2 separate regions of the Homo sapiens genome follow, and region 1 is linked to region 2. Evidence: fine-mapped expression QTL. A gene starts in region 2. The other region holds a variant in brackets. All regions are shown on one strand. Distances are from middle to middle.

The links. PIP is the estimated chance that this variant, and not a neighbour inherited with it, causes the effect.
Region 1: its variant is the best candidate, but not a certain one, in a credible set for the expression of NGB in cerebellar hemisphere (GTEx, PIP 0.86).

What each region holds. Positions count from the first base shown.
Region 1 is chr14:77,215,084-77,219,464 of GRCh38, reverse strand. It overlaps TMEM63C (transmembrane protein 63C), which reads right to left. Exons shown (of 24, transcript NM_020431.4): 3 at 502-664. The coding sequence starts at 651. Among named protein-coding and RNA genes, the nearest start is that of TMEM63C, 35 kb to the right of the region's middle. The variant T/C (reference allele first, on the strand shown) is at 2,774.
Region 2 is chr14:77,268,937-77,273,317 of GRCh38, reverse strand. NGB (neuroglobin) reads left to right here and starts at 2,112. Exons shown (of 4, transcript NM_021257.4): 1 at 2,112-2,469; 2 at 3,992-4,103. The coding sequence starts at 2,381.

The sequences.
Region 1 (4,381 bases), 54 kb after region 2:
ACTTCATGGATCCCTTCCCCTTGGCTGGCCCCCTGCATTCCCTTGGGGGAGACCCTGTCCCTGAGGTCCCCAGGGAGCTCCTCCACTAGAAGGTGAGCTCTGTTGGAGTAGGGGCCATTCCTTTCAACTGTAGGTTGCCAGCGCCCAGCAGCTTCTGGGCACAGAGTGGATGCTCAGAGTTCATTGAATGGAGCTGGAGGCATGTTCAGATCTATGGGACCAGAATGTGCCTTGAAGACCTCAGCAATGAGAAAGAGGAAGGAGGCCAGGTGAACCTCTGGACAATGATGCACAGAAAAGAATCCCAGGAATTCTGCCTGTTCCTCCAGCCTCTTTGAGGCCCACCTACCGGGGCCACCCTAGGCAGGACTGACATTCAGGCAGTTTGTATCAATGTTGTTGTTGTCCATTTGGACAACTGGGTCCCCCACTGCATCACCTGTGAAAGTTCGACCCTGTCTGAGGCTTTACTGTCTGCCTCCTGCAGTGCCCAGGACTCACCACCCACAGGGCGATGTTGAGGCACAGCACGGTGGGGACACCCCCAAAGGGCTGCCCCTGGAGGACGGTGTTCCGAGACTGGAAGCATTCATCCACTGTCATGTTCTGTAACCTTCCCCCTGTACTCAGGTCGTCTGGTGAGGCAGACATCCTGGGAGGATCCCTGGGAAACAGAGGGCATCCAGGTCAGATGCAAAGACTCCCTTGCATTTTGCAAAACACAGAAGCCCGATGGGGAGTTGTGGGATGGGCACCGAGTGCCTCGGCCAGGCTAGGCCACTTCAGACCCAAGACAGGAGGGCCAGCCCACGAGACGGCACACAGCCCTGTCCTGCAAGAGAACAGCTGCCTCAAACCCAAGGCCGGGATGACAGACTGGTTCTCGTTTCCTGGGAGAGTTCTTATTTTGTACCACTGGATCCCTGAAACAAGAGTTGTAAAATGCACATCCAAATGTGCATTTTTCCAGTTCTACCTTGGGAAGTTTTTGTTGTATATAAATGAACAAATTTCACAAATGTGGGTCAGACCCCAGTGTGGAAATGTTCAGGTTGGAAGTCAAAACCGCTGTGTTCACGGAACGCCCATGCAGACGGGGCTCAATGACAATCATCTCTGCATTCAGCAATCTCTGATGCAGTCACCATCCAGCCATGGTAAGGGCCATAGCTCCTAGGGAATGCAGTGCCTGGCATGTGCAGTGACTCAAGAAACACCCCCCTCTTTTTTTTTTAACTTCTGTGGGTACATAGTAGGTGTATATATTTATGGAGTACCTGAGATGTTTTGATACAGGCATGCAATGAGATATAAGCACATCAGGATAAATGAGGTATCCATCCTTTCGAGCATTTATCCTTTGGGTTACAAACAATCCAATTATACTCTTTCAGTTGTTTTAAGGTGTACAATTAAATTATTTTTGACTATAGTCACCCTGTTGTGCTAGTAAATACTAGATCTTATTCATTCTGTTTTTTGTACATATTAAGCATCCCCACTCCCCACCACCCTCATATCCTTCTAAGCCTCTGGTAACCATCCTTCTACTCTCTATCTCCATGAGTTCAATTGTTTTAATTTTTTTGCCCCCACAAATAGCTGGAAATATGTGGAGTTTGTTATTTCTATGCCTGGCTTAGAAAGGTCTCTGTCTTCCAGGCATTTGAACTAGGGAGACCAGGACCTGCCCAGGGACCTGAGCCAACTCCGTGAGCCTGAACATTTTGGTGAGACACCAATGCAGAGCCTGCCGTCCCTGGCATCACATTCCTCAGGCATGGATAACAGTGGGAAGGGCAGGTGAAAATGGGAGGTGTCCGGTAGCTACTTGAACTTATCTGCAAGGTGGTTGTTCTCTCAAAAGATCATTCATTTTGCCTTCAGACCTCACCTCTACCTGGAAACCCTTCACTTCCATTCGAGAAAAGTAGACTCATTCATCCATTCATTGATGCATTTGAATATTTGGTGGGCAACTGCTTTATGCTAGACAAATGCACCAGTGAACAAGATAAATAAAAATCCCTCCCTTGTGGGATTCTACTGGGGAGACAAAGTGGAGGGATGAGGGTGAGGTTAGAATTGTAAAGGGGTGATTAGGGAATTCCTCACTGAGAGAATGACATCTGAGCAAGGACTTGAGGGAGTGAACCATGCAGCTGTTGGGGAAAGAGCACTTTAAGTGGAGGAGAGGCCCTGGGCTTCGAGCTTGCCCGGAGAGTTGGGGAAGCAAGCAGACCAGTGGGCTGCACAGGGCAGGGCAAAGGGCATGGGGAGTGAGCCATGGAGTGAATTAAAATGACTTTTTTTTTTTAAGAGAGAGATAGAGCCTCACTCTGTCACGGTGGCACAATCATAGCTCACTGTAGCCTCCAATTCCTGGGCTCAAGCAATATTCAAGAGTAGCTGGGACTACAGGTGCATGCCACCACACCAGGCTAATTCTTAAAATTTTTTGATAGAAACAAGGGTCTCACTATGTTGCCCAGGCTAGTCTCAAACTCCTGAATTCAAGTGATTCTCCTGCCTCGGACTCCCAAAGTGCTGGGATTACAGGCTTTAATGAGATCTCTTTGATCCTCATATGGAGACTAGGTGGGGGAGCAGGAGGGGTGAACAAGTGGAGAAGTAGATGCGGAGAGCTCGGCCAGGGTCCGGGCAGGAGACAATGGTAGCCTGGACTGGGATGGGCGCAGTGGAGGTGAGAGACGTGCTCAGATTTTGGAAATATTCTGAATGTGGAGCCAACAAGATTTGCCGGCAGATTAGA[T/C]AGGGGATGTGAAAGAGTGAGAGGAGTCGAGGATGACTCTCAGGTTTTTGGCCTGAGCCACTGGAAGATAGAGTTGCTGTTATGGAATGGGAGAGGCAGAAAGTGCAGGATGGAAATGGACAGTAGAGGTGGAGGGGGAGTGCGTGCAAGGGTGAAACCAAGAGTTGAGTTTGGAACATGCTAAGTGGGGACGGGGAGCAGGGATTTGGATAGGTTAGTCTGCAGTTCAGAAAAGAGACTGGAGACATAAATGTGAGACAAAAGCCACTGGCATAGCGACAACTCTTCGAGGCAAAGCCCTGAATTACAGAAGAGAATGTAGTGAGAGGAGAGATCCAAGGTGGGAGCCTCGGGGTGCGCCAATATCTACAGGGCAGGGGAGGAGGAAACAGAGAAGGAGACTGAGAAGTAGCAGCCAGTGAGGAAGGAGGAAAAGCAGGAGAGGGTGGTGTCCTGGGTTGAATGAAGACAATGTTTCCAGGAGGAGGGAGGAACCAGTGTTGATGTGGTCAAGAAAGATGACAACTGTGAATGAGCCATGGTTGCTCTCTCTCTCTCTCTCTCCCTCCCTCCTTCCTTCCTTCCTTCCTCTCTCTTTTCTACCTTCCTTCCTCTCTCTCTATCTCCCTCTCTATCTCTCTTTCACTTGAGGCACGAGCCACTGCGCCCAGCCAAATTAGCCATGGTTTAAGCCATGTGCAGGTGGCCAGACTGGAATAGGCTCCAGAGAGAATGACAGGAGAGGAATTGGAGCCAGTGGGCAAAAACAGCTCTCTGGAAGAGTAATTGGAGGTGAAAGTGGTTAAGACGGGAAAAATAACACATTGTATAGTGGTGGGAATGATTCAGTAGAAGAAGTAGGAGGAGGGGGGAACTGCTGGAGCAAAGTGAGACTGCGGGAGGCTTGGGAACTAGTGCACAGTGGAGATGTTTACTGAGAGTCAGGCTGTTGGCTGGGTGAGTGGGAGGGAAGGCAGCACACATGCTCAGGTGCTGGCTGGTCCCAGGAGTGGCGGCGGCAGCCAGTGAGTGTTCTGTCCTTACTGCTTCTAGTTTCTTTTTCTTTTCTTTTCTTTTTTTTTTTTTTTTTTGAGACAGAGTCTCACTCTGTCGCTTAGGCTGGAGTGCAGTGGCACCATCTTGGCTAACTGCAACCTCTGCCTCCAGGGTTCAAGCAATTCTGCTACCTCAGCCTCCTGAGTAGCTCGGACTACAGGTGCCCACCACTACACTTGGCTAAATTTTGTATTTTTAGTAGAAATGGGGTTTCACCATGTTGGCCAGGCTGGTCTCAAACTCCTGACCTCAGGTGACCCACCCACCTCGGCCTCCCAAAGTGCTGGGATTACAGGTGCGAGCCCCCATGCCCAGCCTTGCTTCAGGTTTCTCAGTAAAAGAAGGAATGAGGTCTCAGCCCAGTGTGAGGTGGTGGTGGTGGGCGGATGTTGGATGTTTGGTGACAGGAAAAAAAGGTAGAAATAGAAGTCTAGGGGAATAAGAGAGGATGGATTACGGAAATGGAGCAGGATTGCCAGGCAACAATGGGGCCTGTGGAGGCTCATGATCTTGAATTGACGAGAGCAGCCAGACTTGCTGTGCTGGATTCAC
Region 2 (4,381 bases):
CTTTTACTGAGCCCCTCAAATGTGGGCTTGGACCCTTGGTCTACTGATGGGAATACATCACTCTCATCGCTTAGGCCCATCCAGATTCTCAGGCCTTTCTTGAAGGGAGCAGGGATAGAGTGCACTTACCTTGGCTTATCTTAGCACATATCTCCTGGCTCTAGGAAGACAAAGAGTGAAGCCATGGTTTGAGTACTGACTCTACTTACTAGCTAGGGCCGTTAACTCCCACTACCTCATCAGACTCCAGACCCTGGCCAGAGGAGAGAGGAAGCAAGATGGGTCCTAAGTATAGATTGCTGGCAAGAAGCGTGAGCTGGGTAGAGTGGGGTACCTGAGACCAGCCAGGTGGCCTGCACAGAGCACTGAGCATCTGGGCACTGAATAGTGAAGGTCACCAATGACACGTGTCCTTGCCCTGTGACCTGCTGCACCTGGCTGCAGGTCCACGGGACCCCAAGCTGGAAGTTTAGTCACGTCTTGTTCCTTCAGCCCCAATCACTTTGTGTTCTTGCTTGGAGACCTCTTGGACCCTAGGACACCAGCTTTTCCAGGCTGCCTTATAGCCTTGCTCTCCTGCTCCAGCCCAGAGATTTGTGAGGAAATGGGAAATAGAATAGGGGTTACCACAAACTCCTGAGTCCTTGGAAGAGGGAGAACAGCTAGATGATTTCCTGGGGCATGGCTAGGAGTAGGAAAGAAAAGTTCTGCTGAGGCACTCAGTTCTGATTCAGGGCCAGAAGGAGAAATTTTAAAGACCAGGACTCGCCACTCCATGTCTAGCACAGGGCTGGGCATGGAGCCCCAGCTGTTCATAACCAGGGGCTCAAGAACACCCACCTTCTACCCATGGAACTAAAGGAGGTGGACTAAAAGGTCCCAGAGACCTCACCACCCAACCCCTTTGCTGCACAACTGAGGAAACAGGGCCAGAGAGGCGTGGACAGACAGAGGAGATAGGCTCGGAGACCCCTGAGGGAATAATGAGAGAGAAATAAAGGTGAAAACGGGCTTGCTCTCCCAAACCTGGGCCACCAGCACTGGGCTGGGGCTTGAGGAACTTTCTGCTTGAAAGAGAAAAGTTTAGTTGTAATTGGCAGGTGGCCAATTGCACACCCTGAGTGGGGAGCATGGATTCTATTATCTGAACTTCTATTGAAAAAATTAAACAGTACTTCCGTTAAAAAAAAAAAAAAAAGGCCGGGCGCAGTGGTTCACGCCTGTAATCCCCAGCACTTTGGGAGGCCGAGGTGGGCGGATCATGAGGTCAGGAGATCGAGACCATCCTGTCTAACACGGTGAAACCCCGTCTCTACTCAAAATACAAAAAATCAGCCTGGCGTGGTGGCGGGCGCCTGTAGTCCCAGCTACTCGGGAGGCTGAGGCAGGAGAATGGCGTGAACCCGGGAGGCGGAGCTTGCAGTGAGCCGAGATCACGCTATTGCACTCCAGCCTGGGCGACAGAGTGAGACTCCGTCTCAAACAAACAAACAAAAAGATGAAAAATCATGGAAGTGGGGAAGGCCCAGGGAGGGAAGAGGTGAAAAATTAAAATTAAAATTAAAATTAAATCATGGAACGGTAGAATGTTAGAGCTGAACTCCCTCAAGATTCCACCCTGGCCAAGCAGAGCTGGGATTAGAACTGGATCTCACGGCTTTCTAAAGATGGAGTCTCAAAAAAACCCAGGCCTGGCTGGGAATGGCTGTGGTCTTGGCCCTGTCCCTACGGCTGAAAGCCCTGGTGGCCCCCAACGTGTGCTGGTGCCCTAGTCAGACCGAGAACTAGGCCCCTAGGCCGCCTCCCCAGGCCTGACCTGCAGGCCAGGTGGGTGGCAAACTCAAATGCCTCTGGCAATGCGTGAGTTGAGGGGCCTGTGGAGAGGGGGCGCATGCAGCGCCTACCTGAGGCGACCAAATTCAACACAGTGCCCTCGGGGCTCGGGAGGAGAAACTGAGGCCCAGAGAGCCTCCGCGATGTCAGTTACGTTCTGCAGGCCGGGCCTTTCCCAGGCCACCATAGCGGCTGGCGGAGGGAGCGCGCGCCTTGCTGGCCTGGAGGGGGCGGGGGCCGTGGCGGCTTTAAAGCGCCCAGCCCAGGCGTCGCGGGGTGGGGCGGCTCTGGCGGCTGCGGGGCGCAGGGCGCAGCGGCCAAGCGGGGTCCCCGGAAGCACAGCTGGGGTGTCTCCACCTACGACTGGCCGCGCGCCTTTTCTCTCCCGCGCCAGGGAAGGAGCGGCTGCGGCCCCCGCCGGGCGGAGGCACGGGGGGCGTACGAGGGGCGGAGGGGACCGCGTCGCGGAGGAGATGGCGCGGCACGTGCGGTGACGGCACCCGAGCCCTGAGGGTCCCAGCCCCGCGCTCCGCGTCCCCGGGACAGCATGGAGCGCCCGGAGCCCGAGCTGATCCGGCAGAGCTGGCGGGCAGTGAGCCGCAGCCCGCTGGAGCACGGCACCGTCCTGTTTGCCAGGTGAGGGCTACACGAGCGCCCGGGGATGCGGGTGGAGGCTGCCTCGGCGGGAAAGGGGTCACGCGGCAGGACCGGCCCCGAAGGAGGGAAAACTGGCCGCTGCCGGGGCGCTGGGGCGCCTGCCAGATGTGCGCCAGAGGAGCGGGGCGCGGCGACGGGTGGCACAGCCCCTCTGCCTCTCTCTCGACCGTGGGCGCCTGTTGCCAACCAGCGCCGCACACCACTCTCCCAGCGGGGCTCACCGGGCCGGGCGGGATCCCCTCCCGCGGATCTCCCCACATCTGGGCGGGTGGACCTCCGTCCCTGCGCGGCGCCTCCACCCCGCCTTGTGCCTCCTGCGTCTTCCTTAGGTAGCGACTGCAGGGGTGCACCCCGCTGCCGGTATCAGGGTACTGGGGTGCCCCGAGAGCCGGGGAAGGGAGATGTGTGGGGCGAGCTCCTGCGCCCGCGTGTGAGCGGTCTGGCTCCAGGTGTGTGGATCCCTGACAACCAACAAGACAAACCTTTCCGAGGAAAGAGCCAGAGAGCAGCCGGGGAAGGGGTGACAGATGCGGGAGCCTCACCGCAGGGGAGAGGGGTGGGGGGTGTGCAGGCCGGGTGGGAAGGGAAGGCCAGTCTCCAACCTCAGCTCGCAGTTTTGGTAACCCTTCCGCTATCACCAACCGGGCACTGCTTCCCTCACCGTGGTGTTACCTATCCTTGGCACCCTTGGACAGTCCAGAACTTCTACCCAGGCTTCCGCAAAACCACCCCCAAGACAAAAGGGGAAAACATTCAGTTACCCGGTGAGACCTCCCAAATGCCGAGGAGGGCCTCTGCTTCTGCCTCCGGACTCCCCCCAGCTCACTTTTTTCTCAGGCACCCGCTGTGGCTGCACTACATCCAAGCTGTGTGACCTTAGGCGAGTTCTAGCCTCCCCGGGCTTCTGTTTTCTCCTCTATAAAACTGGGATAACAGTTGTACCCACTGCTTAGGACAGTGAGGAATACAGTTAAAAGTTAACCACACGGAAAGTACTCAGCGCAGGGGGGGGGGGGGGGGGGGGGGGGGGGGGAGAGGGAGAGGGAGAGAGAGAGAGAGAGAGAGAGAGAGAGAGAGAGAGAGAGAGAGAGAGAGAGAGAAGAGAGAGAGAGAGAGAGAGAGAGAGAGAGAGAGAGAGAGAGAGAGAGAGAGAGAGAGAAAGGGCTTTCCTCTCCACACAACGTAACTCCAGGTTTCCTGTTTGGGGACCTCTTCCTGTCCCAAATCACACCCCTCAGCTATTCACCGAGGGACCCCTGCTTACCAGAGGCCCTGGGACACATTTGCCCTTTCTAGGATGCTGCCCAGAGCCAGTAGAAGGCATGAGGAGGAGGGCACTACCGAAGCTGGCGGGGGAGCAGTGCCAGGTGGGAGAGTCAGCTGTGGTTTGCAGCTGAGACCTGGCTTGGCACCCCCGCCCGCTGACTGCAGGACAGCCAGGCTTGCTGGGGCTTGCAGGAGCTCACACCCCAGGGCTAACACCTGGGCCTCACTCCCACAGGCTGTTTGCCCTGGAGCCTGACCTGCTGCCCCTCTTCCAGTACAACTGCCGCCAGTTCTCCAGCCCAGAGGACTGTCTCTCCTCGCCTGAGTTCCTGGACCACATCAGGAAGGTGAGAGGGAGGCAGAGCTGCTGTGACCTCTGGGATCCAGCAGAGCACCTCCCTGGTGGAGAATGGAGAAAATGACTTTCTGCCCCAGGTCTAGTCTTACTCCCTTCCAGTTCCCCCAAGCAGGGTACAGCTCCTTTCCCTCTGGGCTGGATTGGTCTGGGACATCAGAATCAGCCTCTTCCCCTACCCTGCGTTCAGAGAGCTGGTCCCAGCCTGTGTCATTGCCTTTGTCCTCTGGCTCCCATAGGTTGTGTTAGCACAGATCCTGGTAATTGGGA